7 linked regions of the Homo sapiens genome follow. The protein of the gene in region 3 interacts with the protein of the main gene of each other region in a pairwise test. Each region holds a gene or a part of one and is shown on either strand. Other genes may lie near its edges. The genes, in order: TAF1, MDH1, TTC3, EXOC1, SPTAN1, NUFIP1 and TESC.

Region 1 (4,009 bases), on a different chromosome or scaffold from region 3:
TCCAGTAATACAAATAAATTAAAATATAGATTATCAAATGTGACTAAACAATTTTTCATCCACTATCTTTCAGAGTCAGTAGGGGAGAAAATACAGGATGTGAATTCAGATGATGCTAGCTCTGCCATTACCTCTATGATTTAACATGTCTATTTAAGCTATTTAACATGTCTAAGTTTAGTTTTCCTCATCTACAAAACAGAGATACTTAAAAATGCCTATACCTCACAGGACTGCTATGAAGATTACATATGAAAATCACTTCATAATGTACCAAGTACTATACTACTACCCTAGACCCCAGTGTAGCCCAACACACAACGTGTGAGAGCAACATTTGTTGAATAAATTATTAAACTAATTAAAAAACAAAACAACGCCGGGCACAGTGACTCATGCCTGTAATCTCAGCACTTTGGGAAGCCGAGGCAGGTAGATCACTTTACCTCAGGAGTTCAAGACCAGCCTCGGCAACATGACAAAACCCCATCTCTACAGAAAATACAATAATTAGCTGGATGTGGTGGCGTGCGCCTATTGTCCCATCTACTTGGGAGGCTGAGGTAGGAGGATGGCTTGAGCCCAGGAGGCAGAAGTTGCAGTGAGCCAAGATCGTGCCACTGCACTCCAGCCTGGGTCACAGAGCCAGACCCTATCTCCAAACAAATAAATCATAAAACAACCAATGAGGTAGAAAGAGTGCTAGACAGAATAGGCTGGGAAAAAACAAAAGGAAAACACAAGACAGTAGGACAGAGGACAGCTGAACAGAAACATTTGAGCCAGTTTAAGTAGAGGCAAGATAGGGATAAACTGTCACAAGAAGCCTGAGTCTAAGGAAAGCCTTCCCCGAAAATCAGAAGAGTAGACAGAAAGAGGGAAGACCATCACTGAGTGTGGAAAGAAAATTCTACATGTGAAATATAGGCAGAAAAAGAATTACAGAAGAATACAGAAAAAGATCTTTTTTTTTTTTTTTTGAGATGGAGTTTCGCTCTTGTTGCCCAGGCTGGAGTGCAATGGCGCGATCTCGGCTCACTGCAACCTCCACCTCCCGGGTTCAAGTGATTCTCCTGCCTCGGCCTCCCGAGTAGCTGGGATTACAGGCATGTGCCACCATGCCCGGCTAATTTTGTATTTTGAGTAGAGGCAGAGTTTCTCCATGTTGGTCAGACTGGTCTCGAACTCCTGACCTCAGGTGATTCGCCCACCTCGGCCTCCCAAAGTGCTGGGATTAACAGGCGTGAGCCACCACGCTCGGCCAGAAAAAGATCTTTAAGAGACTACAAAAGTAGCCACAAAAGAAGAGGCTGAATTGGTAGAAAACCTCAACAGAAAGTTCCAGGGAAAGGAGAAGAACAATACAAAGATGATACTAAACATCCGGTTAGCAATAGACTATGAATGTAAAGGATAAAGAAAAAAACTGAGCTTTGCAGATGCTTTAGGAGAATAAACAACAACAACAGTAGAATAAACTAGGTATAAGAGTAGGACAAATGGTTAAGATTGCCAAGAGAAATGAAATGGAGAAAAAAAACAAGATGGGAGAGTGCTAGAGATTTTCCACATCATTTGTGGACCATCATACTTCCCCCCTTGAATATATAAAAGCTGTTATAAGAGAGCCTCTTTACACCCATTAGAACAAAGGAGGGAAAAAAAAAGCATTTCACTATGGCTGGGGACTGTAGATGGCACAGTTCAGGTGTGGTTCAATATTCACAATAACCACAGCTAATGTGATCAAAATGTTATCAATTTTATACACAAAAATTAAATATTCATAAATTATAGTAAATTTATAGTAAATTCATCCTAGGTTGACTTCCTTATGCTTCCCAGATGTTACTGAGCTTACCAGTGTGTATTTTTAAAAACCTATTTTACATTTAGCCTGAGAATAACACAATTCACAGCCAGTTTTAAGAAAAAGATTTCTTTAAAACATTTTTGGATTATACTTATTTTCTTTGTACTTAAAATTAAAGCATCTCAATCAACTAGAATTATAATAGTTCTTTCTGAGCTGACTGGTTCCTCATTTATCAATTTCCTTAGTTAACAGTAAAAACAGGAAAGAATTCCTCACTTGCAGCAATTGGCCAGGATGGAGAGAACCCAGGAAAGGAGATGTATGGCAGTAAACAGTTTCCCCATATTTACAATCTGGTGCTCCAGGATCTTTTCCAGGTTTCTATAAGGAACACAGAAGACCCAGTTATTTAGAATATATCAATAATCCTACACAATATGACCATAGCACTTTACTAATACAGGTTGAGTATCCCTCATCCAAAATGCTTGTGACCAGAAGTGTTTCGGATTTTGGAATAGTTGCATTATACTTACCAGTTGGGCATCCCAAATCTGGAAATCCAAAATGCTCCAATGAGCATTTGAGTATCATCATAGTGCTCAAAAAGTTTAGGATTGGCCGGGCATGGTGGCTCATACCTGTATCTCAGCACTTTGGAAGGCCAAGACGGGCAGATCACGAGGTTAAGAGATCGAGACCATCCTGGCCAACATGATGAAACCCTGTCTCTACTAAAAATACAAAAATTAGCTGGGTGTGGTGGCACACGCCTGTAGTCCAGCTACTCAGGAGGCTGAGGCAGAAGAATTGCCCAAACCCAGGAGGTGGAGGTTGCAGTGAGTGGAGATCATGCCACTGCACTCCAGCCTGGCAAAAGAGCAAGATTCAGTCTCAAAAAAAAAAAAAAAGTTTTGGATTTTGATTTCGAATTTTGAGATTTGAGATGCTCAACATGTTATAACTACAAAAAAAGGTACCACTCCTTTCTCCCAAGAAATTTATGGTATATGTTCACAGATTACCAGTAGATCTCTAACTACAGCTACGTTAATAATAAAAAATTTGTATGTAAGTTTGCAGTTTGTCTCACTACAGCTATGTTAATAACAAAAAGTTTGTACATAAAAGTTTATGGAAGCATAAGCAGAATTATGTATGGGAAAAAAATTTTCTGAGCAGAGACTCACCCGTTTATAATAGTTCTTTATCTTGGTTGCCATGCCAACCTGCATCATTAAGGGTCCATTTTCCTCACTATATTCTGCAAGAATAAGATCACCATCTTTGCCTGTGAGGTCCTGAGGTGTGCGCATAAAAAACATCTCTCCACCACCTGAAGCTTGCCTCTCTTGTTCTCTCATCTGTCCAGAACAAAGAAAATACCATCTAGCTCCTGACAGGACACTACTACACACAATGACGTTGTTCAATCTGAGACAAACACACCAAAAACATTTTACCTATTTTCCAATTTCATAATCAAAATTTTCAAACATACTGTAAAGTTCAAAGAATAGTACAGTCGGCCCTCCATATCCATGTATGGGTTCTGCATCCGTGATTTCAACCAACCATAGATAGAAAATATTCAGAAAATACAAGTGCATCTGTGCTGAACAGGTACAGACTTTTCTTGTCATTATTCCCTAACCAATAACAGTGTTAACAACTATTCACATAGCATTTACATTGGAGTAGGTATTATAAGTAATCTAGAGGTGATTTAAACTATAGGAGAGGATGTGCATAGGTTATGTGCAAATATTATGCTATTTTATCAGAAACTGGAACATCTAAAGATTTTGGTATCCAGAGAAGGTCCTAGAACCAATCTCCCAGAGATAACGAAGGACGACTGTACTATGAACACTTATTATCCCACGTCGCTGTTTATATTTCGCCATTTTTTTAAACTTTTATCTTTCTATAGACTTTGCTGGACAGTTTTTGAAAGATGCAGTCATTCTGACACCTCACCTTTAAATATTTTCACATGCATCACCTAACAATAAAGACATTCTCCTAAATAACCAAAATAACATTCTATCACATCTGAGAAAATAACCAATTCCCTAATACAATCTAATACCTGGTACATTCCCTTAATTTATACCCCAATATCCTTTATAGCTGTTTTCTAACCAGAATTCAATTATACCTTGGCCTTTTTTTTGATGTGCTTTAGCAAAG
Region 2 (4,009 bases), on a different chromosome or scaffold from region 3:
AGTGATAACATTCTGTTTTCTTTTTTGGGGGACAGGGTCCCGTTCTGTTGCCTGGTGGAGGGGTACTGTCATGGTTCACTGCAGCCTTGATCTCCTAAGCTCAAGTGATCCTCCTACCTCAGCCTCTCAAGAACCTAGGACCACAGATGTGTGCCACCATGCCCGGCTAATTATTTTATTTTTGCAGAGAGGGGGTCTCACTATGTTGCCCCGGCTGGTCTTGAACTCCTGGGCTCAAGCAATCTTGCCACCTTGCCCTTCCAAAGTGTTGGGATTATAGGCGTGAGCCACTGTGCCTGGCCAATAATACCATTCTTAAGAGAAACATATAACTACTTCCTCAAAGAAGGGAAATAGCTCCAAAATACCTTACCTTGATTACAACAGGGAATGAGTAGAGCAGATCATCAGGAACACCATAGGAGTTGCCATCAGAGATAACACCCATGGACACAAACTCTCCCTGAAAATAACAATGTTTCACATACTCATGATGATTAGTTTACACAACTGACACATGAACTAATAAAATTAAACCAGGTGACCCTTTCTTACTATGTTCATAACATCATTACTGTGTAAGGAACTATCATCAGCACCAGGTACTGGTGACAAGGTAACTTTCATGGATATTATTTCATTCCACGCTTCCATATCATATGTGAAGTAGGCCAGGGAAACCTAATCCTCATTTTACAGATGAGGAAGCTGTGGCATAGAAGAAAAAAATTCACCCCTACTATGTATCAGGCATTGTGCCAGGTGTTTTCCATGTGCAATCTCCTTTAACCCTCACAACCCTGTGTATAATAGTAATGTCATGTAAAAGATGACAAAACAGCTCAGAAAGGTCAAGGCTAACAAACCCCGAAGTTTACTTGTTAATAGGCAGCTGAGCTGAGAAATGAACCTAACCTGACTGACTGCTAAGGCTATATTCTTTTTATATTATATCATCAGGCAACAAAAATAAAATAGAGTGACCTGTGCAAATCACTAAATCCTTACCTCTGGGGTTCCAAACCAGATGTCCCTGACGTGGTCACAGATGGCTTTTGCAGCAGACATGGCACTGGATAGTTTTCGAGCCTTGATGACAGCAGCGCCACGCTGCTGCACAGTCTGGGAAGGGGGCAGGTGAAGGCAGCAGTATTACTTGGTCATGATAGCAAAGTTTTCATTAATTCCAAGTCGACCTTGGGGTGAAAAGCTATGACCAGAGCTTAATGTTTCCCCTCCAAAATCATGCAACAACCCAATGTCAGCCTTACCAATCCTTCTGGAAAAAGGAAACTATGTATCTCCATACAAAGTTTATCATAGGTCAGACAAAGACATGGATCTTGGTATAAATCTCAACTGCTGTCACATCAGATCACACTAGATCATGACTGGCTTACTATGATCCCGAAAGTATGCAGTCATCAGAGCAACTGTGAAAGACCTGCCCTCTTTAAGGTTTTCTGTCCTAAGAGTCTCTCAAGAGTTCTTTACGCTCAGTGTTAAGAAGGCTCACAGATTTTTCTTACCGTGACAAATTCTCCCTTGAGCCAGCTGTCATCTTTCAGAGCTTCATAAACACCAACTTCCTTTCCTTGCAATTTCACCTTGGCATGGTTGACATCTGGATACTGAGTCGAGGAATGGTTTCCCCAGATAATGACATTCTTTACATCATTAGCAGTCACACCAAGTTTAAGAGCAATCTAGTTAAATTGAAAACAAATACATTACTGAGACAAATGGTTTTTATTTCCAATTGGGACCTGTTTTGACAAATGCCCTTAAATAAAGATAAAAAGCTTCTGAAATTTCAAGAGAACACAAGAGTTATATTGACTTGTAAAAAATGTAAATTTATTGCTTGGCAATTTCCTACAACAGCTTAACAGTGGTAACAACTGTGGACTTGAAACCTTATGGAGTAGAATGTTTAAGGGTATGAAGCATCCCATAGTTTGTGGTTAACTTATTAGTACAGTAGGTGTATCAAACATAAAACATTAATCGTTACTATTATTTATCAATTTACTATTTCTTGAATATGTAAATGTGATCTTTTGTTTCACTGTTAATGTTTACTTGGAGATGTCTTCTCAGTGCTTCTGAGTAATCAGGTATTTAGGCACTTTATATTTAGGTAAAATTTTTATTATATACCATATAGAAATTAATTTTCAAATAACCCTAAATATGAAATTTTAGAGTTGGATAGGACTCAAATTACCAAGATATGACTGTCCTCATTTTATATATCAGGAAACTGAAGGAAAGAGGTTTTATATATGTGTATGTGTGTGTGTGTACACACATATATACACTCTAAAATTATAACATATGTAACAATCTCTAGCTATAACTCCAGAAAGCACTTTAGGGTCCTGCAATGCCTTGCAATCACATGTAGTACAGTAGCCACAAAAAAGGTTAGAAAGTTATGTCTTGGGCTGGGCATGGTGGCTTACGCCTGTAATCCCAGCACTTTGGGAGGCCAAGGCGGGCAGATCACCTGAGGTTGACAGTTCGAGACCAGCCTGACCAACATGGAGAAACCCTGTCTCTACTAAAAATACAAAGTTAGCCGGGCTTGGTGGCACATGTCTGTAATCCCAGCTACTTGGGAGGCTGAGGCAGGAGAATCGCTTGAACCTGGGAGGCGGAGGTTGCGGTGAGCCAAGATCGCACCACTGCACTCCAGCATGGGCGATGCAGCGAGACTGTCTCAAAAAAAAAAAAAAAAAAAAAAGAAATGTCTTGGTAGATTTAAATAAAATCAGCCTGCTTGTTATTTGTCTGATAAGTTTATGTGCAGAAAATAAATTATGATCAGGTATATGTATAATTTGTTCCTAACTAGACAACAGAATTTATGATGAACCAGAAGGGAATGTGGAAAAATATTTTAAGAAGCTGATCTGTTTTGGTGACATTGTGGGCAATTCTTCCTTCCTCTGTGTCCCAAAAAGAATGGGAGAAGAAACTAGTTGTGCCAGAGTCTGTAGCTTTAGCACACATAAATAAAGCATTTGAGTATTTACCATGTAAGAAAAGGAATACACTTTGATATTTTAAGGAAAATTTTAAAATAAGGGTAATAACAGCTCCAAACTGAAACAACTCAAATGTCGTTCAAGAATGGTTAAATATGCCAGGCGCGGTGGCTCACACCTATAATCCCAGCACTTTGGGAGGCCGAGGTGGGAGGATCAGGAGGTCGAGATGGAGACCATCATGGCCAACACGGTGAAGCCCCGTCTCTACTAAAAATACAAAAATTAGCTGGGTGTGGCAGCGTGTGCCTGTAATCCCAGCTACTCAGGAGGCTGAGGCAGGAGAATCTCTTGAACCTGGGAGGCGGAGGTTGCAGTGAGCCGAGATCGTGCCATTGCACTCCAGCCTAGGCGACAGGGCGAGACTCTGTCTCAAAAAAAAAAAAAAAAAAAAAAAAAAAAAAAAAAAAAAAAAAAGAACGGTTAAATAAACTGTATTATGTCTTACATAGGCAATGGAATAAATAAAAGGGGTAAGTGGAAAAACAACAAAAAGAAACAAACAACAACCTGGATGGATCTTAAAGGCATTAAACTGAGTGAAAAAGAGCCAGTCTCAAAAGGTTCCTTACTGCATGATTCCACTTTTGTAAATTCTCAAAATGACAAAATTATAGAGGTGGAGTGCAGAAAAATGATGTCAGGGACAGAGGGTGGTGTGACCATAAGGGAGAGTATGAAGGAGTTCTTTTGTGAGTGATGAAGAAATTCTGTACCTTGACTATGGGGGCAGTTACAGGAATCTACACTTGTAATTAAATGTCATAGAATCATTCATAAAGACACAGAAAAAAATAAGTGAATATAAAACTGGTGAAACTTCAGTAAGTCTAGTTAATAGTATTGTGTAGTTCATCAACTTCCTGGTTTTGATAATACTCTGTAGTTATGTAAGGTACCATCAATGGGTGATGGGTACATGGGCCTTCTCTGTACTATTTTTTTGCGACTTTTGAGTC
Region 3 (4,009 bases):
CACTGCCTTCACTGTTTCTCCTCTGAACTAATTTAACAAGCAGTCTCCTAACTGGTCAGACTTGCCTTCAATCTTGGCATCCTCTAAAACTCTGATCATATCACTTTACTGCTTAAAACCATGCAACAGCTTCCCTTCAGCTTGAGAATAAAGTCCAACTTCCCTAATATAAGCATAGAAGACCTTTTGTGATCTTGCTCCTGCTTTTATCCCCAGTCACTCCACAACACACAACCTAGAAGCCAGTCATACCCAACTGCTTGTCCTTCCTAAACAAAACTTATTCTGCAACCACCTAATGTCTATTAGTTCTTAATACTCAATTTCAGGAAGCATTTCCTGATCTTCCCACTACCATCAAGTTGATTTTTGCACCTCTTCTCTGTAAACAAGAGCACCCTGCCCATGTCTCTGACAGCAGTTTTCACATTGTTTGACCATCACAGGTTTATCTCTGCAGGGTCACTATGGATCCAGAGGATATATTGTGCAATCCATTTGCCATCTGTACTGCTATTTACTTAATACTTTTCTTTAGGATAACTCAAATCTTAACTTAGATGTAAACTAGTTTTAATGGAAATGTTGGTATCACCAAGAAAGCTTGCTTGGTACCATAAAATTTTTTATAATACAATCAAACAAAAATATACTACTAAAATTAAATATTAAAATAAAGAGCTTCTGATCCCATCAGTTATGGTCAACTATACACTCTGGGGGAATGTACTGTTGGGAGGAAAAAGGTATATCCTAGATTAAAAAAAAAAACACTTTTTGGATGTTTTTGCTGAGCTCATAGAAATAGGGGAACATGTGAAGGCACCCTCTCCACGCAAAAGCAACAAACCTTGAGCTAGAAATTAAACCTGGCTACAGTTTAGTGCTACAAGTAGTGGTGCCAAGAGCAGTAATAGGATCAGGACACTGAGCCCTGGGCCAGAAGCAAAATGTAGGAACTCAAAAGTGATGCCAGCTAAACTTTCTGGCTCCCAGACAAAGCTGATAGAAATGCTTTCAGAAAGCAAGCATCCTCAAATTAGACTCTCAAGATCACCACAAAGATCAAACAGAAGTTCATAATCAATGATCACCAAACACATGAGGTGACAGCTACATTGAGGAGAGACAACAGAAAAAAAAACAAAAAAGCAATAAATTTAGACATCCCCCTCCTCAAGGATATCAGACATTGGGAATGTCTGATATAGTCTACAGAATAGCTATAGAGTCACAAAAATCAGCATATAACATGAGAACATGAAGAATGACTGGACATATCAAAAAAGAACCAGGCAGAACTTTTAGAAATTAAAAATGCGGCCGGGCATGGTGGCTCATGCCTGTAATCCCAGCACTCTGGGAGGCCAACGTGAGCAGATGACGAGGTCAGGAGATCGAGACCATCCTGGGTAACACGGTGAAACCCCGTCTCTACTAAAAATACAAAAAAATTAGCCGGGCGTGGTGGCGGGCGCCTGTAGTCCCAGCTACTCGGGAGGCTGAGGCAGGAGAATGGCGTGAACCCGGGAGGCGGAGCTTGCAGTGAGCTGAGATCGCGCCTCTGCACTCCAGCCTGGGCGACAGAGAGAGACTCCATCTTAAAAAAAAAAAAAAAAAGTAATTAAAAATGCAATTGTTAAAAGAAAAAAAAGAGACAGGATGGGTTACAGAGGATATTAGGCACAGTTGAAGAGAAAATTGGTGAACTAAAATATATGCCTTATGAAATTATCCAGCACTGTAAATTCTGGTAAAGAGAAACAAAGAGATAAAAAATATGAAAGATAAAGAATAAGTGATCTGGAAACAGTTTAGTGTATATATATATCCAGTTAAAGTTCCAGCAGGAGAGAAGAGACTAATGAGACATAATATTTAAAGAATACAGGGCTCAGAAACTTCTAGATCTCATGAAAGACAAAATGCAGAATCATGAAACACATGCATCCAAAATAGGATAAATATAATCTCTATCTAGACTTAGAAGTGAAATGATGTAACACAAAAGACAGAAAATCCAATGTAACTAAAAGAAAAATGATATTTTCTTCAAAAAACGCATAAATAGGCTGGGTGCAGTGGCTCACGCCTGTAATCCCAGCACTTTGGGAGGCTGAGGCGGACAGATCACGAGGTCAAGAGATCAAGACCATCCTGGCCAACATGGTGAAACCCCATCTCTACTAAAAATACAAAAATTGGCCAGGCATGGTGGCAGGTGCCTGTAGTCCCAGCTACTTGGGAGTCTGAGGCAGGAGAATCGCTTGAATCCAGGAGGCGGAGGTTGCAATGAGCCAAGATGGCGCCACTGCACTCCAGCCTAACAACACAGCAAGACTCCACCTCAAAAAAAAAAAAAAAAAAAAAAAAAAAGGCATAAATAAAACTGGCAGCACACTTTGTATAAGCAACAGCAGAATAGTATTCCTACCCTACTGACAGAAAAGAAACACCAACCTACAATTGTACATCCATCAAAATGATCTGTCAAGAACAAAGGTAAAATAAAAATACTTTTAGATTTTTTTTAATATCTAAAACTGAGTCAAACACCAACCAAGACACCTGGAACATAACCAATTAAAAGACAGAAGTTGTCTGGTGAGATTAAAAGAAAAATCCAGTAGTATGTCCCTTATAAGAGACACTTAAAATGTAAGGACACTAAAAAAAATCAAAGTAAAATGAAAGAAAAGAATATTCCAGGTAAATTAGCACCAAAAGAAAGACGGGATCAGACAAAAAGCCTCTAAGACAAAGAAGCAAACTTAGAGAAGATCACAATATAGTAAAGGTTCGAGCCACTAGGAAAAAAATGTTAAGCTTGCATGTAGCTAATAAAAGTCTCAAAATACAGAAGAACAAAAATTGTTAGAACTACAGGAAATCTGTTAGAAACTAGTAATGGTGGAATATTGCAACACACTTCTCTCAGTTAATGATAGGATAAACCAAAATTAATAAGGATAAAGACTATCAGAACAACACAAATAACAAGCTTTACCTAATAGACACTTAACAATTACAGAATATATACTCTTCACAAGTGTACACAGAACAGTTCTAATAATTCACTATGTACAAGGCCATAAAGCAAGGGCAAAAAAAAAAAAATGCTAAAAAGATAAAATATTCTCTGGCAACACAAGTAAGAAATCGATAATTAAAGGAAAACAATATAGACACATTTGAAAATTTAAAAATGTCTAAGTAACTCATAAGTCAAAGAAAAAATCAAAATAGAAATTGTAAAAATACTTAGATTTGAAAGTTAATGAAAACACTATAAATTAAACTATGTTAGATAAGCAAAAATGAACTTTGAGGAAGTTTACAGTCTTGCATGCTTATACTAGGAAATCGGAATGGTTGAAAATTAATATTAAGTGTGTAATTTAAGTGAAAAAAATAGTAAAATAATAAACTGAAAGTAAAATGAAATAATAAAAGAGAAAAAAGATCAATGAAATAAAAAACAAATAATAGAACAAATTAGGCCAAAAGTTAATCCTTTGCCAAGATTTTAAAAATGGACAAACTTTTACTAAGACTGATCAAGAAAGAGAAGTCAGACATAAATAATATTCAACATGAGAAAAGGGGAACACATATACAAATAAAACAGAGATTAAAAAGAGAATTAATGCCATACCACGAGCGGTGGCTCACACCTGTAATCCTAGCACTTTGGGAGGCCGAGGTGGGCAGACCACTTGAGGTCAGGAGTTTGTGAAGAGCCTGGCCAACATGGTGAAACTCCGTCTCTACTAAAAATACAAAAAAATCAGCCAAGCATGGTGGCGCACGGCTGTAATCCCAGCTACTCAGGAGGCTGAGGCAGGAGAATCGCTTGAACTCAGGAGGCAGAGGTTGCAATGAGATGGCACCACTGCACTACTCCAGCCTGGGCAACAGAGGGAGACTCTATCTTAAAAAAAAAAAAAAAAAAAAAAAAAAAAAAAAAACCATACCATAAACTTGATGAAAGGACAAATTTCTAAAACTT
Region 4 (3,979 bases), on a different chromosome or scaffold from region 3:
TGAGGGCTCTCTTCCTGGTTTGCAGACAGCTGCCTTCTCATTGTGCCCTCCCACAGCAGAGGGAGAGTGAGCTCTGCTGTCTCTTCCTCTTCTTACAAGGGCATTGAGTCTATTGGATCAGGGTTCCTACTCTTCTGACCTCATTTAAACTTAATCGTCTCCTTAAAGACCCTATCTCCAATACAGCCACATGGGGGGTTAGGGCATCAACATAAAATGTTAGTAGGGCCACAATTCAGGATATAGCACATCTTTTGTTAGAGTTAGTCCTAAATACTAAACATCTTCAATATTATTATTTTTCTTATTTTTTTTTCAAGTGACAATATCTTGCTATGTTGCCCAGGATGGAGTACAGTGGCACAATCACAACTCACTCAAACTCTTGGGCTGGGGCAATCCTCCTGCCTCAGCTTCTCAAGTGGCTTAGATTATAGGCATGTGCCACCACAAAAAATTGTTCTTCTATGGAGACAGGGTCTCACTGTGTCGCCCAGACTAGTCTCAAATTCCTGGCCTCAATCAGTCCTCCCTCCTTGGCCTCCTAGAGTGCTGGAATTACAGGCATGAACCACTGCACCCGGCTTACTTTACTTATTATTAAACTTTTAAGTGTTTTGTGGTATATAAACTTGCAATTAATTTTTGTATATGGATTTTGTAAGAACTTGCTTTAATACAGAAGACAGCATATGATAGACCTAAAAATATTATCAAATGTCAACTTTTTTGAAAATTTATTTCACATTTATTACTAGTCACATAATCCTCAAAAATCTAAGTTCACAAATGATCATCACATGAGCCCTCTTCTCCATATACACATTTGTTAGTGTGAAAAAACAATTTTGTACAGTATTTTAGTAGTTACATGATTAGCAAGCAACAGAGAAGTAGTGAAAGCTGAAGAACTCCAAATGCATTGCTCATAGGACAACCACTCAAACACAAGCAGCTAGGCAATAAAGGAAAATTTCCCATCCAGTCATTGAGAAATGCTAAAGGCATTTTATGGTGACATGAATGCTTAAGTTAGTATGCAACCTATAGGGCAAATAAAACTGCTATATAGGTTGGTAATTTTGCATTTAAATATTTGTAGTATGGTACTACCCATTTATCTAACATTTAATAATACATAAAATTTTAAGTCTGGGTTCTCAAAACAGTTGCTTGGTATTTTGGTATAGTGTCTGTTATACTCAAATGCTTCATTCAGTTATCTTTTCTTCTTTCACAAGGTTTAGTGGGACTGTGCAATGCTGGAACAATAATCCAGAATGTCCTGAATAGTGAATTCCATTGTAACACCAGATCCAGGATAACAGCGAGCTATCAAACCTTCAAAGTGCTTATACTGGCGTATAAATTCATCTTGCATGGAGTGCCACACCACCTATTATTAAAAAAAAAAGTCATTAGGCTATGAATGGAAATAATATGTAATCTAGTATGCAGAAATAATGCCAAGGCATATTCTAAGAATTTGGGTAGTATAGTAGCTAGGAACATGCATTCTGAAACCAGAATCCCAGTCACTTTTACCTACAAGATTTGTAACCTTCAGTACATGACATCACTGCTCTATGCCTCAAGTTCCTCATCTATAAACCAAGATAATAATAAGACCTTCCTCATAATGCTGTGAGAATTAAATAAGAAATGTACATAAAGTGCTTCAAACTGCGTTTGACACAAGTAAGCACTCATGACATTTTAGCTATTATCTTATATACTCCAATATGCAACACAGATGTGGATATGCACAATTATGTATAGAACTAAGACTAGTGATTACATAAAATGTAATGCTTTAATTTCATTTCCTATAACATTTAAAGTTTTCTTTATCTAAAATTGTTGATGCAAAACCTTGCTTGATGCCTTGGAGGACAGCAAAATGACTCAGACCCATTATCTGCAATCATGTGATTTATAATCTAACAGTGGAGGCTAATATGTAGACAATTACCAAGACACAATGTGATACACACATTGACATAATGGCTTAAATAGATTACATTAATTGAAGCTTACTCTTTATCAGCACAGTACAAAGCACTTTATGAATATATTATAGTATTAAGTCTCATGATGACCTGGTGAGGGTGGGTATTATGATCATCTTCCCTATTTGACAGCTGAGGGAATGTATTCTTCCAAGATTTTTTCTTGTAAATCCTAAATCTCATAAATCCTAAATTCCTGCCAACTTAAGACCAATCGCTATTCCCTAAGCAGTGTTATGCTTTTTACTTTTCATCGTTTAGCTCATATTATTTCTTTCTAGAATGCTACTCCCTCCATCCCCACTTTGCCTGTTCAAGTACATCTGACTTTCAGAGGTTAAAACAAACAATGCAATATCCCTCAGGAAGTCTTCCATGATGTTGAAATCAGAATTACTCTCACTCATATCTGGGCCTTTCAATATGGTTTATAAAGAATAATGGCCTAATTTGGACTTTAAATCTGGCTCCACTACCCATTAGTTAAGAGAGCTTGGTCCTATTACTCCACCTCTCTAAGCTGATTTTCTTTCTTTCTCTTTCTTTCTTTTTCTTTCTTTCTTTCTTTTTTTTTTTTTTTTTAATTGAGACACGGCCTCACTCTGTTGCGTAGGCTGGAGTGCAGTGGTAGGATCATAGTTCACTGGAGCCTCAATCTCCTGGGCTCAAGTGATCCTCCTGCCTCAGCTTCCCGAGTAGCTGGGACTACAGGCACGTGCCACCATGCCCAGCTAATTTTTTTAATTTTTAGTAGAGACAAGGTCTTGCTATGTTGCCCAATACAGTGGCTACTGTACAAGAGATGTATCGTTTCCACTTATCAAATAAGGAAACTAAGGCTCAGAGAGGTTAAGTAACTTCCCAAAGTCACACAGCTTAATCTGGAGCCAGATTATGAACCCATCTCTAATTCCAACCACTCAACCAACCAACCAACCAACCAACCAACCAACCAAAGAAAAACAAACTTAATGCCTCACCATAATATAGCAGAAATACGAAATAAGCAGAAATAGCCATATATGCTTATATAAACAGTATTCCTTTCTTCCTCACAATTCATTAATCTGGTCTGTACTCTAATGGAACTCTCCTCCTGCTCTAGATCTGTAGCATTTCTAGAAAATTATTTAAAGAAAAGCAATATATGTAAGGATCTTTAAGTCAGATGGTCAAAAGAAGTAAGCATACCTGAAGTAAGTTCTCTTCTTCACATAAATGTTTATCAACTTTCTTGTAGAGGTTATCTAGACCTTTTTTTACTTCCTTTCCAGGGTACTCCTTAATGACTTTACGAAGTTCTTGTTTGTTAAATGCAAGTTGGTAACTTACTTCCTCCTCCCTTATGCCCTGTGCCACGCGAGCTTCAACACCTTCAAAGAAATGCTTCAAGGAAATGAAAAGAAACAATGGCTAAGACCTGCATTTATTATTATTTACATTAAAAAAATCTGATTACAAAGTAGTGTATAATCACCATGCAAAAATCAGTGTGTGAAAGTATAAACAATAAAATAACAATCACTTATTAACATACTTCTGAGATGAACATTGTTAATATTGTAGAGTTCCTTGTAATCTTTTGATGTGTGAATACATACAGGAGATTAAAATTTCATGTCCCACTTTACATTTAATATTGTTTTTTCCTAAATATAAATTTTAATGGCTGCATAATATTTCACACAATGACTGAACCACAATTATTATTCATTCCTCTAGTACTAGATATTTAACATCCCACTCCCCCTTCTTTTTTTGGACTTGGCAAATCTAGTGAGACTTTAGAAAATCTACTATAAATATATTTGTCATAAATTTTTTTTGTATATAAGTATTTACCCATCTTACTGATTAAATTTCCAGGACTATAATTACTCTGTTGAAGAGCATAACTTTAAGTATTTGAAAGATTCTTCAGTATATATACAAACTGCTTCCTAGGAAAGCTCAACCAATTTATATTTCTG
Region 5 (4,009 bases), on a different chromosome or scaffold from region 3:
ACTTCTCTGCTTGGCCTGGGGCCTCTGCCTGGCCGGGTCACCTTTGTAATCTGCCAAGCCTGCTGTGAAAGCCAGGGCTGCTGGGACTGGAGTGGCTTGGCCTGCACTCCTGAGGCTCTGCACCCAGGCACATCAAGCCTGTATAGGCGGCCAGGGGAGAAATAGACCCATCCAGCCGGGCCACACATTCTGATGGCAGAGCAGCTGGGGACGTAGGGATCGCAGTTTCCGGCCTGTGCCCGTAGGACACCCTGGCCACCTGACTCCCCTCCCTGCCCCATGCCTGTGTCTGCTGGTCTTGCTCTTGTCTCCGTGAGGTGCCACGCTCCCCTCACCTTATGGCTCCTCCCAAGCCCTGCCCATCTTGCCCATTCCTAGTGTGAGCTGCCTGGGGTGAACCACTGGGCCTGCTGCCTCCAGGTACCCGCCGGGCACCAGGTTGCCCTTGCCTGCGCCCTGCCAGCTTGGGCTTTGTGTGTGTCTGTTGCAGTGTGCTCTTGCCTCCCCTCCCTTTGGTGTATTCATTTGGTTTCTTTTCTTTGAATAGCATAGCATATCGTCGGGTCATTCGTGTCTATCAGTATGAAGTTGGGGATGATCTGTCTGGAAGGTTTTTCTCCTTATTTCTCTTCTTACCTCACTGTGGCTTTACTGATGCACTCTTGACATCCCCAGGCGGCTCCACCCTGACTAACCTGCCGCCCTCGGCTGCTTGGGAAGGAGGGGTCTGTCCTCCCACTGCACCGGCACCCAGCCTCCTGCCCCCAGGTCCTGGGGGGCATTTTCCCCGGGGGGACATGGCGTGACTGTGAGTCTGACCTGCTGGGGTAGGAGGAAGCCTGGTGCCTTGCCTTGCTAGAGCACTTTGAACCTGGGGAGATTGCAGAGCTAACCCTGGCTCGCCGGGTTTTAAAAGGGTAGGTTGGGGTGAATGTGGGTACAGGGGAGCCTGGGCTAAAACCCCACCAAGGCCACACGCACCGTGTGATTCGTCCCTGCACGTAACCCTAACTCGTTTGTTGTCTTTGTTTACTGGTAGCCTCTGTGACCTGGCACTGTGTTCTCTTGGGAAGGAGGCTCCCCAGAGCCCATCTGCTCTCAGAACTTGGTCCTAGAGAGGAGGCTCCCTCCCTGGCTGTGTCTAGAGGATGGAACCGGGATCTGGGGTTTAGTCACAGCCATCTCTCTCCTTTTGGCACAGTTGGTCGTGATCTCCCAGCACTCCACTTGTGTCCTTTGTCTGCAGGGTCGTGCTCTCATTCCCCCTAGAATGGGGCTCCCTCCCTCAGGAACCTTGCCGGGACACTCCAGGGTTTCTGTGGGGAGGCTGTCAGGTTCTCAGCCTCCCCTCTGCCCTGAGGTCTCCTGTCTGTCAGGTGTCAGGGTGTGCCATCCCCCACATGGCTGCAGAGAGGATGCTCAGACAGGCCTGCAGCCACCCTGCACCCATGGGGGAATTTAAACTCCATTCCTGAGTCATCCTGGCCTTGGGAGCAAGACGAGTGGGCTCAGCCCTGGCCCACACCAAGGCAGCAGCTTCCCATCTCTAAAACGGGAGAAATGCTCCCTGCCATCCCTCGATCCCTGGGGCCCATTAGGTAAAGATGGCCAGTTGCAGTTAGGTTTGGTTTCCTTAAAAGGAATGTGAGGTTGCCAGGCATTGCTCTCTCTGAGAGAAGGTTCATTCTGAGCTCTCGGCCAGCTGGGAGCAGGCCCCTTTCCTCACTGTCCTTCCACGTTTAGGTCCTGTATGGTGGAAGAGTCGGGGACCCTCGAATCCCAGCTTGAAGCTACCAAAGTAAGTGCCCGTGGGGCTCTGGCCCAGCAGAGACCCTTCACCCAGCCACCCCCCAGGGTACCCCTTCCCTTCCTGGCTTAAAGTCAGGAACCAGATGTGCTATTATTGTACCCTTTTCCCTTGGCCTAAAGCAGTCTAGGGCTCTTCACTATCTCTCTCTCTTTTCTTTCTTTCTTCATGGAATCTCTCTCTCGCCCAGGCTGGAGTGCAGTGGTGCGATATTGGCTCACTGCAACCTCCACCTCCCAGGTCAAGCAATTCTCCTGCCTCAGCCTCCCAAATAGCTGTACTACAGATGTGTGCCACCACATTTGGCTAATTTTTGTTTATTTTTAATTATCTTTTGAGATGGAGTTTCACTCTTGTTGCCCAGGCTGGAGTGCAATGGACGTGGTCTTGGCTCACTGCAACCTCCACCTCCTGGGTTCAAGTGATCCTCCTGCCTCAACCTCCCAAGTAGCTGGGATTACAGGCGCCCACCACCACACCTGGGTAATTTTTGTATTTTTAGTAGAGACAGGGTTTCACCATGTTGGCCAGGCAGGCTGGTCTCGAACTCCTGACCTCGGCTGATCTGCCCGCCTCGGCCTCCCAAAGTGCTGGGATTACAAGCGTGAGCCACCACATCTGGCCTAGTTTTTATATTTTTAGTAGAGACAGTGTTTTGCCTTGTTGGCCAGGCCGGTCTGGAACTCCTGATCTCCAGTGATCTGTCCACCTCAGCCTCCCAAAGTGCTGGGATTACAAGCATGAGCCACCACTCCCGGCCGAGGGCTCTTCACTTTAAAGAAAGTCTTTGGGGCTGGGTGTGGTGACTTACACCTGTAATCCCAGCACTTTGGGAAGCCGAGGCGGGTGGATTGCTTGAAGTCAGGAGTTCGAGACCAGCCTGGCCAACATGGGGAAACCCCATCTCTACTAAAAATACAAAATATTAGCTGGGTGTGGTGGCAGGCACCTGTAATCCCAGCTACTCAGGAGGCTGAGGCAGGAGAATCACTTGATTCTGGGATGCGGAGGTTGCAGTGACCCGAGATCAGGCCATTGCACTCCAGCCTGGGTGACAAGAGCAAAACTCCCTCTGAAAAAAATTACTTGGGCATGGTGGCCTACACCTGCTCAAAGTCCAGCATGGGCAATATATAGCAAGACCTTGTCTTAAAAATAAGGCTGGGTGCAGTGGCTCATGCCTATAATCCCAGAACTTTGGGAGGCCAAGACAGGCAGATCACTTGAGCCTAGGAATTCAAGACCAGCCTGGTCAATGCAGTGAAACATCGCCTCTACTAAAAATACAAAAATTAGGCAGGTGTGGTGATGGGCACCTGTTAGTTCCAGCTACTCAGGAGATTGAGGCAGGAGAATCACTTGAACCCGGGAGGTTGCAGTGAGCGTGATTGCGCCACTGCACTCTAGCCTAGGCGACAGTGAGACTCCATCTCAAAAAAATTTATAAAAATCTTTGGCCACTGCTTCCTGGAGTCCTCGCCGTACTTGTCCTTGGCGTGCACTGCCCTCTGGCAGGTCTACCAGCTGCTTTGGAACCCTCACATTGAAAGTCTCTCCCTCTATTGAGGTGGTTGGGATTTCTTCAGCTTCACCCCATCCCACTATTCCTATTCTAGAATGTTCTTGTTTTACGAGGTCTCAGGCCAGGCCTGGAGCAGGAACCAGAGGGCAGTAAGTGGCTCCTGGGCTGGTGACTGAGCTGAGGGCCCCCGTCTGAGCATCTGTGCTCCCCACCCCTGCAGCGCAAGCACCAGGAAATCCGAGCCATGAGAAGTCAGCTCAAAAAGATCGAGGACCTGGGGGCCGCCATGGAGGAGGCCCTCATCCTGGACAACAAGTACACGGAGCACAGCACCGTGGGCCTCGCCCAGCAGTGGGACCAGCTGGACCAGCTGGGCATGCGCATGCAGCACAACCTGGAGCAGCAGATCCAGGCCAGGTACCCGGGAGGGCTGTGGGCCAGGCTCAGCCCAGAGCAGGGGGAGGAAAAGACACAGTCACCTGCTGTGTGGAGGGTCTGTTCCCTAATTTCTGTTTTTCTTCCAGGAACACAACAGGTGTGACTGAGGAGGCCCTCAAAGAATTCAGCATGATGTTTAAGTGAGTTCAGCCTTACTCGCCCTGGCTGGGTGGGGGGTGTTCGGCAGCAGGGCTGCCTGCTGAGCCGCCCTCGGCTTTGTGCTGCAGACACTTTGACAAGGA
Region 6 (4,009 bases), on a different chromosome or scaffold from region 3:
TGAAACTCTGTCTCTACTAAAAAATACGAAAATTACCTGAGCATGGTGGCACATGCCTGTAATCCCAGCTACTCGGGAGGCTGAGGCAGGAGAATCGCTTGAACCTGGGAAGCAGAGGTTGCAGTGAGCCAAGATTGTGCCACTGCACTCTAGGCTGGCCAACAAGAGCGAAACTGCATCTCCCCCGCCAAAAAAAATAAAATAAAATAAGAGACAGGGTCAGCTGGGCATGGTGGCTCACGCTTGCAGTCCCAGGACTTTGGAGGCTGAGGCAGGCAGATCGGTTGAGCCCAGGAGTGTGAGATCAGCCTGGGCAACATAGTGAGACCCCATCTCTATACAAAGAATAATTTTTTTAAAAGAGACAGAGACAGGGTCTTGTGCTGTTGCCTAGACTGGAGTGTAGTGGCATGATCATAGCTTACTGCAGCCTCAAACTCCTGAACTCAAGTGATCCTCCCACCTCAGCCTCCACAGTAGCTAGGACTACAGGTGCATGCCATCATGCCAAGCTAATTTTTAAATTTTTTTGTAGAGATGGGGTCATGTGAGGTTACCCAGGCTGGTCATGAACTCCTGGCCTTGAGTAGTTCTCCTGTCTCAGCCTCCCAAAGTGCTAGGATTATAGGCATGAGCCACCACGCCTGGTCCATATGCAAATTTTTGAGCCAGGTTGTGACAGGATTGGAGAATTTTTTTTTTTTTTTGGTGTCAGTATGTAAGGTTTGTTGGAAGAGGGGGCTTATGAACTGGAAGACAATATAGGAGTAATCTGGTGGAAGATCAGAATTTCTGACTTGGGGCATGGTAATAAGAATGGAAAAGTACAGTGGGATTTGAGAGGAGATATATTTCACAAGGTTCTGTTTTCCTGGTGCGAAATTGATGCTGAAGGAGCAGTGTTGGGGATTTTACTGGTTACATTTCTAATATTTGAAATAACCGAAGGAATTTCATCAGGTTAGGTTGTCCATTTCTGCACTTTGACGCCTAAAGTTTCTGTGGACATATAATCACACCAGTCTTTCTTTGTTTGAAAAATAGTCATTTGGTAGACTAATCTTAATCTTTGTTATTTTGTTTGAACTAGTATTCTTCCTAGAAGGGTAGTTTACTAGTGTTTTTACTGAAATATTTGTAACATGCTGTAGTAGATAAAATTTAATTATAATTTAAATAATTACATTGTTGCAAACATTTATGGATCTTTTTTTTTTTAGTTAAAAATTCTTATTATCCACGAAAGTATGATGCAAAATTCACAGACTTCAGCTTACCTCCCAGTAGAAAACAGAAAAAAAAGGTATTTGAAAGATGTTCTTGAATTTGACCCCTTGGTCCCTATGTTACTGTTTCATATCTTGCATTTCTGTCATAACTGTCTTCAGTGTTTTGCTTCCATTATTGACACAGTGGAGCCTTGCTATAAAAAGGAATTTTATGGTTAAACATGAATATAGCAAATTGGGATTCAAAAATAATACATAACTAAATTTTTGTTTCTTTTCTGTGGTTTTAGAAATAGATATATATTTGATACTTTTATTTTACCTTATTTTTTTTTAGATGGAGTTTCACTCTGTCGCCCAGGCTGGAGTGCAGTGGTACGATCTTGGCTCACTGCAACCTCCGCCTCCTGGGTTCAAGCAATTCTCCTGCCTCAGCCTCCCAGAGTAGCTGGGACTGCAGGTGCGCACCACCACACCTGGCTAATTTTTGTAGTTTTAGTAGAGTTGGGGTTTTACTGTGTTGGCCAGGCTGGTCTCGAACTCCTGACCTCAAGTGACCCGCCCACCTCCGCCTCCCAAAGTGCTGGGATTAAGGCGTGAGCCACCATGCCTGGCCATATAGTTGATACTTGAACAACGCAACAGTTAGAGGTGCAGTCAGAAGTTTGTGTGTAACTTTTGACTCCTCTAAAACTTAACTACTAATGGTCTACTATTGACTGGAAGTCTTACCAATAACATAAATAGTCGGTTAGTATAGAAATGAAATGGTGTCCACATATATTTTATACCTTCTTGACATACTTTTTTTTTTGATATTTCTAAGGCTATGTGGTTTATCTGTGAGTTTTTCCAAATTGTCACAAATCTCCAAAAAAATTTTCCAATATATTTACTGAAAAAAATCCTTTTATAAGTGGACCCTTGCAGTTCAAACCTGTGTTGTTCAAGGGTCAGCTGTAGTTATTTTTTTCTAAAAGATGAGCTGCTGTTTTTATTCTATTTATTTTCAGATCATTTCAACATATTCTGTACTGAGTCTTAATTAGATAACCAATTTGCAATCTGCTCATAATTTATATTAGCACTATTTGGATTAAAAAAGTTTAAAATTATGCCTGGGTTTCACTAATATATTTGTTAAAAACAAAATGAAAGAAAGAAATAGAATAATCTCTTCATTGGAAATATACTCACAAGCTTCTCCCACACGAAAGGGTTATTGGAAACATCAAAGTGTGTATTACTAGAATGATAGTTATGTTTTTATTATTGATTACAGATTTTTCACCAAAAGCCTAATTCCTCTCTGTTTTTGTTTGCAGAAAAGAAAGGAACCAGTTTTTCACTTTTTTTGTGATACCTGTGATCGTGGTTTTAAAAATCAAGAAAAGTATGACAAACACATGTCTGAACATACAAAAGTAGGTTTTCTTAGTTGTCCTGAAACTGATGTAGCAATTGTGCTTCTTCTATCTGTATATTTGGTAGAAATGCCAAGCTTGTTTTCCTTTAAAGTTTATAGTTTCTGTAGAGATATAGTTTGACAACTTGACAGATAGGGGCAGTGACCCTGGGGTTTGAAAGTGGGGATCCCGCTGCTTCAGGGACGAGGTAAGATGGTAGCAAAGAAGGGAGCTCTGACAGCTTTTTGTATGTGTGTACCTCTACTGCTTGGGAAGAGGCTGTCCTCTCCTCTAGTTACCTTGTGCATCTTAATGAGTTCTTTCCCCTTTAAGTCTGCCCTTGACCATTAAACCATACTGTGTAATGTGGCTGTGCCTATCACCCTCAAAGGCTGGTCCACACCTTGTCAGGTACTAGCTAGAAAACTTTAACCAAAATGTTTAAAAGGTTTAAAAGGAAGCCTTTGGTTTTGAAAGGTTCTTTTTCTGTTTTTGGGAATGCCCCTCAACTTTAGGAATTAAGAGCATTTCACAGGTTTATTGATGTATGCCTTTGCTCAAATGGAGAAGTAAATAAGATATATTATTGTGCCACATACTCTGAGAGTGTCATTCCTTTGCCTAAAGGCAGCCCTGTTTTGGAGTCATTTTTGTATGCAGAGATAATACTATACAGATGGGATAACTATGTAATACAGCCAGAATATGTCTGTGTATGTATAGTGGGGTAAATTTAACATGGAAAACATTTGTTAAATAGTTTTTTTTTTCTTTTAAAAACTCATAGTGCCCTGAATTAGATTGCTCTTTTACTGCACACGAGAAGATTGTCCAGTTCCATTGGAGAAATGTAAGTTCTGTTTTTTTATCCTATTTTTAAATACATGCTCTTTTTATTGATCTGTTATCTTCACAACTGTTTATTTATATACCTAATAATAGGTAACACTAATGGAGTACTTTGTAAGGATTTTGACATCATTTATTCAACTTTTTCCTCACAAACAACTATGGTTGTTTATATTGGCCCCATTTAAAATATTTTAAAAAATGAATTGCCCAAGGCCTGAGAATTGATTCTTGGACCTCAGTTTCTTGACTCCAAATTGTATACTGCTTTACTACACCATGCTGCTACAGATTGTCACGTCTACTCATATCTTTAGTGGCCTCTCTAGGTTTTGATTGGTAAGTCATTCATTTGGGTGTTTAATGTCATTTGAGAGAATGGGTGGCATATCTACTTTGTAATCAAAATTATGTTACCCCTTTTCCCTCTATTAATAGCACTAATTAAATACATGATAGATTCTTCTTCCTTTAAAGGAAAAGTTATAACACAAATAGATACAACCTGCTTACTTGGTTTTAAAA
Region 7 (4,009 bases), on a different chromosome or scaffold from region 3:
AGTAATTGTTTGAATCATTTTCTTACTGAGGCATGATTTCCATACAATGGAAAACACTTCACTGTTCAGAGACCCTAACAAGGGCAGAGGGCCCTCCCCAGAGGCACTCAGACAATTCCACATCCTATTTCATGGGGTTCATGGACTCCCTGAAGATGCCAGGGGAAAAGCCACAACCTAGCCCAGAGGAAGAGAAAAGGCACGGGGGACTGGCTGGTTGGCTGTTCAGCTTACCAAGCTTTGGCGGACGACAGAACAGTGTGGAGCTGGCTGGTCCACCCTGGCCCATCAGACCCTTCCTCCCGCTATGCTACAGTTGTTGGGGTGCTCCCCTGTCCCCCTGGAACCCCTGAGCTTCTGGAGGGCAGGGACCGCATCTGGTCCACCCTGGTAGCAGAATATGGCAATTGGTGAATGAGCCGAGGCCACCGTCTGAGGCCACTTAAAGACTTTAGAACCAAGAAGTATTACCCAGGGGCGAGAACGCAGTGGAGAAACCAGCGCCACCCCCACCAGCCACGCTTGGCTACGCCAGTCCTCCCTGCCATCTCTAGCTCCTTCTCCAAATGAGATTAGACCAGGAATGGAATCCGACTCTCTTTTTTTCTTTGGAGACAGTCTCGCACTGTCACCCAAGCTGGAGTGCAGTGGCACCAACTCCTGGGCTCAGGCGAACCCCCTGCCTTGGCCTCCCAAAGTGCTGGGATTACAAGCATGAGCCACCGCACCAGCCTGCGACTCTACTTCTCATTATGATGCCTGTGGCCTTGGGCAGGCACCTCCTCTCTTGAGCCTCAATGTCTGCATCTGTAAAATGGGAAACCAACCGTGTTCCTGGGAGGATTCCATCAGCTACTGCGGATACGCTGCCTGGCTCAGCTGAACGTGTGGCAGATGCCACGCGCCCGAGAAACATTAGCTCTTACCATCATGAGGTCTGAACTCTAGGTCTGGAGATTTTTTTTTTTTTTTTCCTTTTCCTTCTGGCAGCTTCTTGGCATCAACATAGACATGCCTGAAGAGCTGTTTTGGAGCCTGAAGGAAAAAACAGACCCTCCACCTTTCCCAGAATCCTCTGTCTTATTATTTCCTTTCCAACTCCAGGAGCAGACACGGATGGGGGGGACAGGAAGTGGGGCCAGCTCAAGGTGGTGAAGGACAACTGACTCAGGTGAATAATTCCCAAGAAGCCCTTCTCTCCGTCAGGTCCCACTTTGTACCTCGGTCCACACACCAGACACCACTTGGCTGCTGTCACCACGGGTGCGTGGGGAAGGTGAGCTCAATCACACCCCCGGGACGCCTTCGCTCGGGCTTTTCATATGAATCTTAACAATCTAGATGTGAGCCTTCTTGGCTCAGAAAAGATTCCTGGGAATACTCGTTTCCGGTTTAAATCAATCAATGAGACTCTAACAGGCAGGGAGAAGGAAGGTGGGCACGCAGACCTGATGATGCCCTGTGTGGCAAGCTGCTGCTCAGGCATATTTTTGGTGGGGCTGGGGAGATGCTGGGAGGGTTGGCAGCCGAGGACAGCTGGTGAGGGTGGCACTGGGTTTTCCAGTGGCTGCCTGTTCCTGAACAATACACCTTGAGTTTTAAAGTCCCCAGGGACTGTGCCCCTTTAACGTGAGCCTCTTATGCTCTCACTGAACCACCAAGTGCATACAAAGGTGAACAAGACACGTTCTTTCTGCTCTAGGGAGCTCCAAGTTTCGAAGGGGTGGCAGGTGACAGAGTTGACAAGTATAACATGGTGTGATGCCTGCTATTGCGGGCTCCAGGAGCGCTGAGGATGGGTGTTTAACCCTTAAAGGTCGGATGGAGAGATGGCTTTCTGGATGGGAGCAGCAGGTAAGCCAACCCCTGAACAATAATGAGCATTCGTTTCATAAAGAGACAGGGTTAACGCTGTGCGCGGTGGCTCACACCTGTAATCCCAGCACTTTGGGAGGCAGAGGCAGGCGGATCACTTAAGGTCAGGAGTTTCAGACCAGCCTGGCCGACATGGTGAAACCCTGTCTCTACTAAAAATACAAAAATTAGCCGAGCATGGTGGCGGGCACCTGTAATCCCAGCTACTCACGAGGCTGAGGCAGGAGAATTGCTTGAACCCAGGAGGCAGAGGTTTCAGTGAGCTGAGATCGCGCCACTGCACTCCAGCTTGGGCAACAAGAGTGAAAATTCATCTCAAAAAAAAAAAAAAAGAGAGAGAGACAAGGTTAAGAGGAAAGGTTTGAGTTTGTTTTTTCTTGTTTTTGTTTTTTGTGAGATGGAGTTCACTCTGTCGCCCAGGCTGGAGTACAGTGGCATGCTCTCAGCTCACCGCAACCTCCGCCACCCAGGTTCAAGCGATTCTCCGACCTCAGCCTCCCGAGTAGCTGGGATTACAGGCGTCTGCCACCGCGCACAGCTAATTTTTGTAGTTTTAGTAGAGACAGGGTTTCACTATCTTGGCCAGGCTGGTCTTGAACTCCTGACCTCATGATCTACCTGCCTTGGCCTCCCAAAGTGCTGGGATTATAGGCGTGAGCCACCACGCCCGGCCTAGACCTTACCCTGGGTGGAGACAGAGAAAGGCTCCCGTACGTAAACACCTGATTGTACACATCAAATGAAAACAGTGCTCCAGGCAGAGGAACAGCTTTTGTGCAAAGGCCTGAAGGTGAGAAAAAATACGGGAGTCTTTTCCTATCCCTTCTTGGTTCCTAGAAATTCAAGTGGCAGCTACACACAGTGAAAGCATGCTGGCAGTAAGAAAGCAGTCTTGGGGCCAGGCATGGTGGCTCATGCCTGTAACTCCAGCGCTTTCAAGAGGCTGAAGTGGGAGGATCACTTTGAGGCCAGGAATTTGAGACTAGTCTGATCAACATGGCAAGACCCCTGTCTCTACAGAAAAATTTAAAATTAGCTGGTGTGGTGGCGCACACCTGCAGTCATAGCTACTGGGAAGGCTGAGGTGGGAGGATCGCTGGAGCCCAGGAGTTCGAGGTTGCAGTGAGCTTGATCATGCCCCTTGCACTCCAGCCTGGGTGAGAGAGCAAGACCCTGCCTCAAAAACTAAAAATTAAAAAAAACTGTAAAAAAAGAAAGTAGGCTTGGGGATCCCATGATCTCCAACTCCTCCACTTAGCAGCTGTGGGACTGCAGGCAAGCTGGTTTACCTCTCTAAGCCTCAGTTTCCTCACCTGTAAAATGGCCCTAACACTGCCTTCCTGGGGGATCATTACTATAAAGAGTGTTATGCAGAGAGCACCAGCGTGGAGCCTGATGCTCAGCAGGTGCTTGGGGAATTATGTTCATTATCACCAGCCTCAGCCTGACCTTCTGGTCCTTTCTGGATGGTGTTCTCAGAAAGGGACCAAGCTGATTCCTCCCCAGAAAGTCAGGGGTCATCTTGGTCCTCAGGGAGGCGGGGGAGTCAGCAGCCCTGTGGGCTCAGTCTGTCCTCTGGCCACCTTACCCTGAGGCTTTTCTCCCTTTTTCTCAGGGAAGATTCCCAAGGGAATGGCCTTGGAGGAAGGGCCCTGCCTGACCCACTGGGTCTCTGGGAGCTGACGTTCCCATGCCAAGCCGATCGTCTCGCACGTAACCTTATCAAATCCACACAATGACTTCAGGATCCAGGTGGGGGTACTGAGGCTCAGAGAAGTAAGATGACTTGCCCAAGGTCATGTAGCTCAGAGAGGTGGGACCAAGACTCAACTCTCAGCTATGGCTCGGAGCGACCAGGACATACAAGAGTGTTTAAAGCATGGTCAATAACAAACCATGTACATGTGTTTGGTCTAACTACTTCATGTATATTAACTCAATCCTTCCCAACAACTTCAAGGGAGGTACTATGACTATGCCCATTTTATAGTAGATAAAACTGAGGCTCAGAGAGCATAAGTGACTTGCCCAAGGTACCTGGCAAGGCCCCTGAAGCCAGGCTCCTGCCACAGCCTGAGCCCTGACGACAGCTGTGTCCTCATCTCATGCATTCTTATTTACTGTTGCTGGCTTG

Evidence for each region.
Region 1: the proteins of TTC3 (region 3) and TAF1 interact in a two-hybrid assay, tested with the Homo sapiens proteins (one large-scale study listed by BioGRID and IntAct).
Region 2: the proteins of TTC3 (region 3) and MDH1 interact in a two-hybrid assay, tested with the Homo sapiens proteins (one large-scale study listed by BioGRID and IntAct).
Region 4: the proteins of TTC3 (region 3) and EXOC1 interact in a two-hybrid assay, tested with the Homo sapiens proteins (one large-scale study listed by IntAct).
Region 5: the proteins of TTC3 (region 3) and SPTAN1 interact in a two-hybrid assay, tested with the Homo sapiens proteins (one large-scale study listed by BioGRID and IntAct).
Region 6: the proteins of TTC3 (region 3) and NUFIP1 interact in a two-hybrid assay, tested with the Homo sapiens proteins (one large-scale study listed by BioGRID and IntAct).
Region 7: the proteins of TTC3 (region 3) and TESC interact in a two-hybrid assay, tested with the Homo sapiens proteins (one large-scale study listed by IntAct).

What each region holds. Positions count from the first base shown.
Region 1 is NC_000023.11:71,383,133-71,387,141, reverse strand, and holds part of TAF1 (transcription initiation factor TFIID subunit 1), read right to left. Parts: coding exon 3,978-4,009; intron 3,181-3,977; coding exon 3,007-3,180; intron 2,198-3,006; coding exon 2,093-2,197; intron 1-2,092. UniProt on the Homo sapiens protein: The TFIID basal transcription factor complex plays a major role in the initiation of RNA polymerase II (Pol II)-dependent transcription.
Region 2 is NC_000002.12:63,602,393-63,606,401, reverse strand, and holds part of MDH1 (malate dehydrogenase, cytoplasmic), read right to left. Parts: intron 1,707-4,009; coding exon 1,530-1,706; intron 1,123-1,529; coding exon 1,009-1,122; intron 464-1,008; coding exon 374-463; intron 1-373. UniProt on the Homo sapiens protein: Catalyzes the reduction of aromatic alpha-keto acids in the presence of NADH. Plays essential roles in the malate-aspartate shuttle and the tricarboxylic acid cycle, important in mitochondrial NADH supply for oxidative phosphorylation.
Region 3 is NC_000021.9:37,079,477-37,083,485, reverse strand, and holds part of TTC3 (E3 ubiquitin-protein ligase TTC3), read right to left. Parts: intron 540-4,009; exon of another isoform or gene 1-539. UniProt on the Homo sapiens protein: E3 ubiquitin-protein ligase which catalyzes the formation of 'Lys-48'-polyubiquitin chains. Mediates the ubiquitination and subsequent degradation of phosphorylated Akt (AKT1, AKT2 and AKT3) in the nucleus.
Region 4 is NC_000004.12:55,901,760-55,905,738, reverse strand, and holds the end of EXOC1 (exocyst complex component 1), read right to left. Parts: intron 3,396-3,979; coding exon 3,201-3,395; intron 1,397-3,200; coding exon 1,244-1,396; 3' UTR 653-1,243; downstream 1-652.
Region 5 is NC_000009.12:128,628,578-128,632,586, forward strand, and holds part of SPTAN1 (spectrin alpha chain, non-erythrocytic 1), read left to right. Parts: intron 1-547; coding exon of another isoform or gene 548-610; intron 611-1,743; coding exon 1,744-1,798; intron 1,799-3,549; coding exon 3,550-3,746; intron 3,747-3,853; coding exon 3,854-3,907; intron 3,908-3,994; coding exon 3,995-4,009. UniProt on the Homo sapiens protein: Fodrin, which seems to be involved in secretion, interacts with calmodulin in a calcium-dependent manner and is thus candidate for the calcium-dependent movement of the cytoskeleton at the membrane.
Region 6 is NC_000013.11:44,979,366-44,983,374, reverse strand, and holds part of NUFIP1 (FMR1-interacting protein NUFIP1), read left to right. Parts: intron 1-1,220; coding exon 1,221-1,303; intron 1,304-2,554; coding exon 2,555-2,653; intron 2,654-3,422; coding exon 3,423-3,485; intron 3,486-4,009. UniProt on the Homo sapiens protein: Binds RNA.
Region 7 is NC_000012.12:117,092,825-117,096,833, forward strand, and holds part of TESC (calcineurin B homologous protein 3), read right to left. Parts: intron 865-4,009; exon of another isoform or gene 850-864; coding exon of another isoform or gene 828-849; intron 1-827. UniProt on the Homo sapiens protein: Functions as an integral cofactor in cell pH regulation by controlling plasma membrane-type Na(+)/H(+) exchange activity. Promotes the maturation, transport, cell surface stability and exchange activity of SLC9A1/NHE1 at the plasma membrane.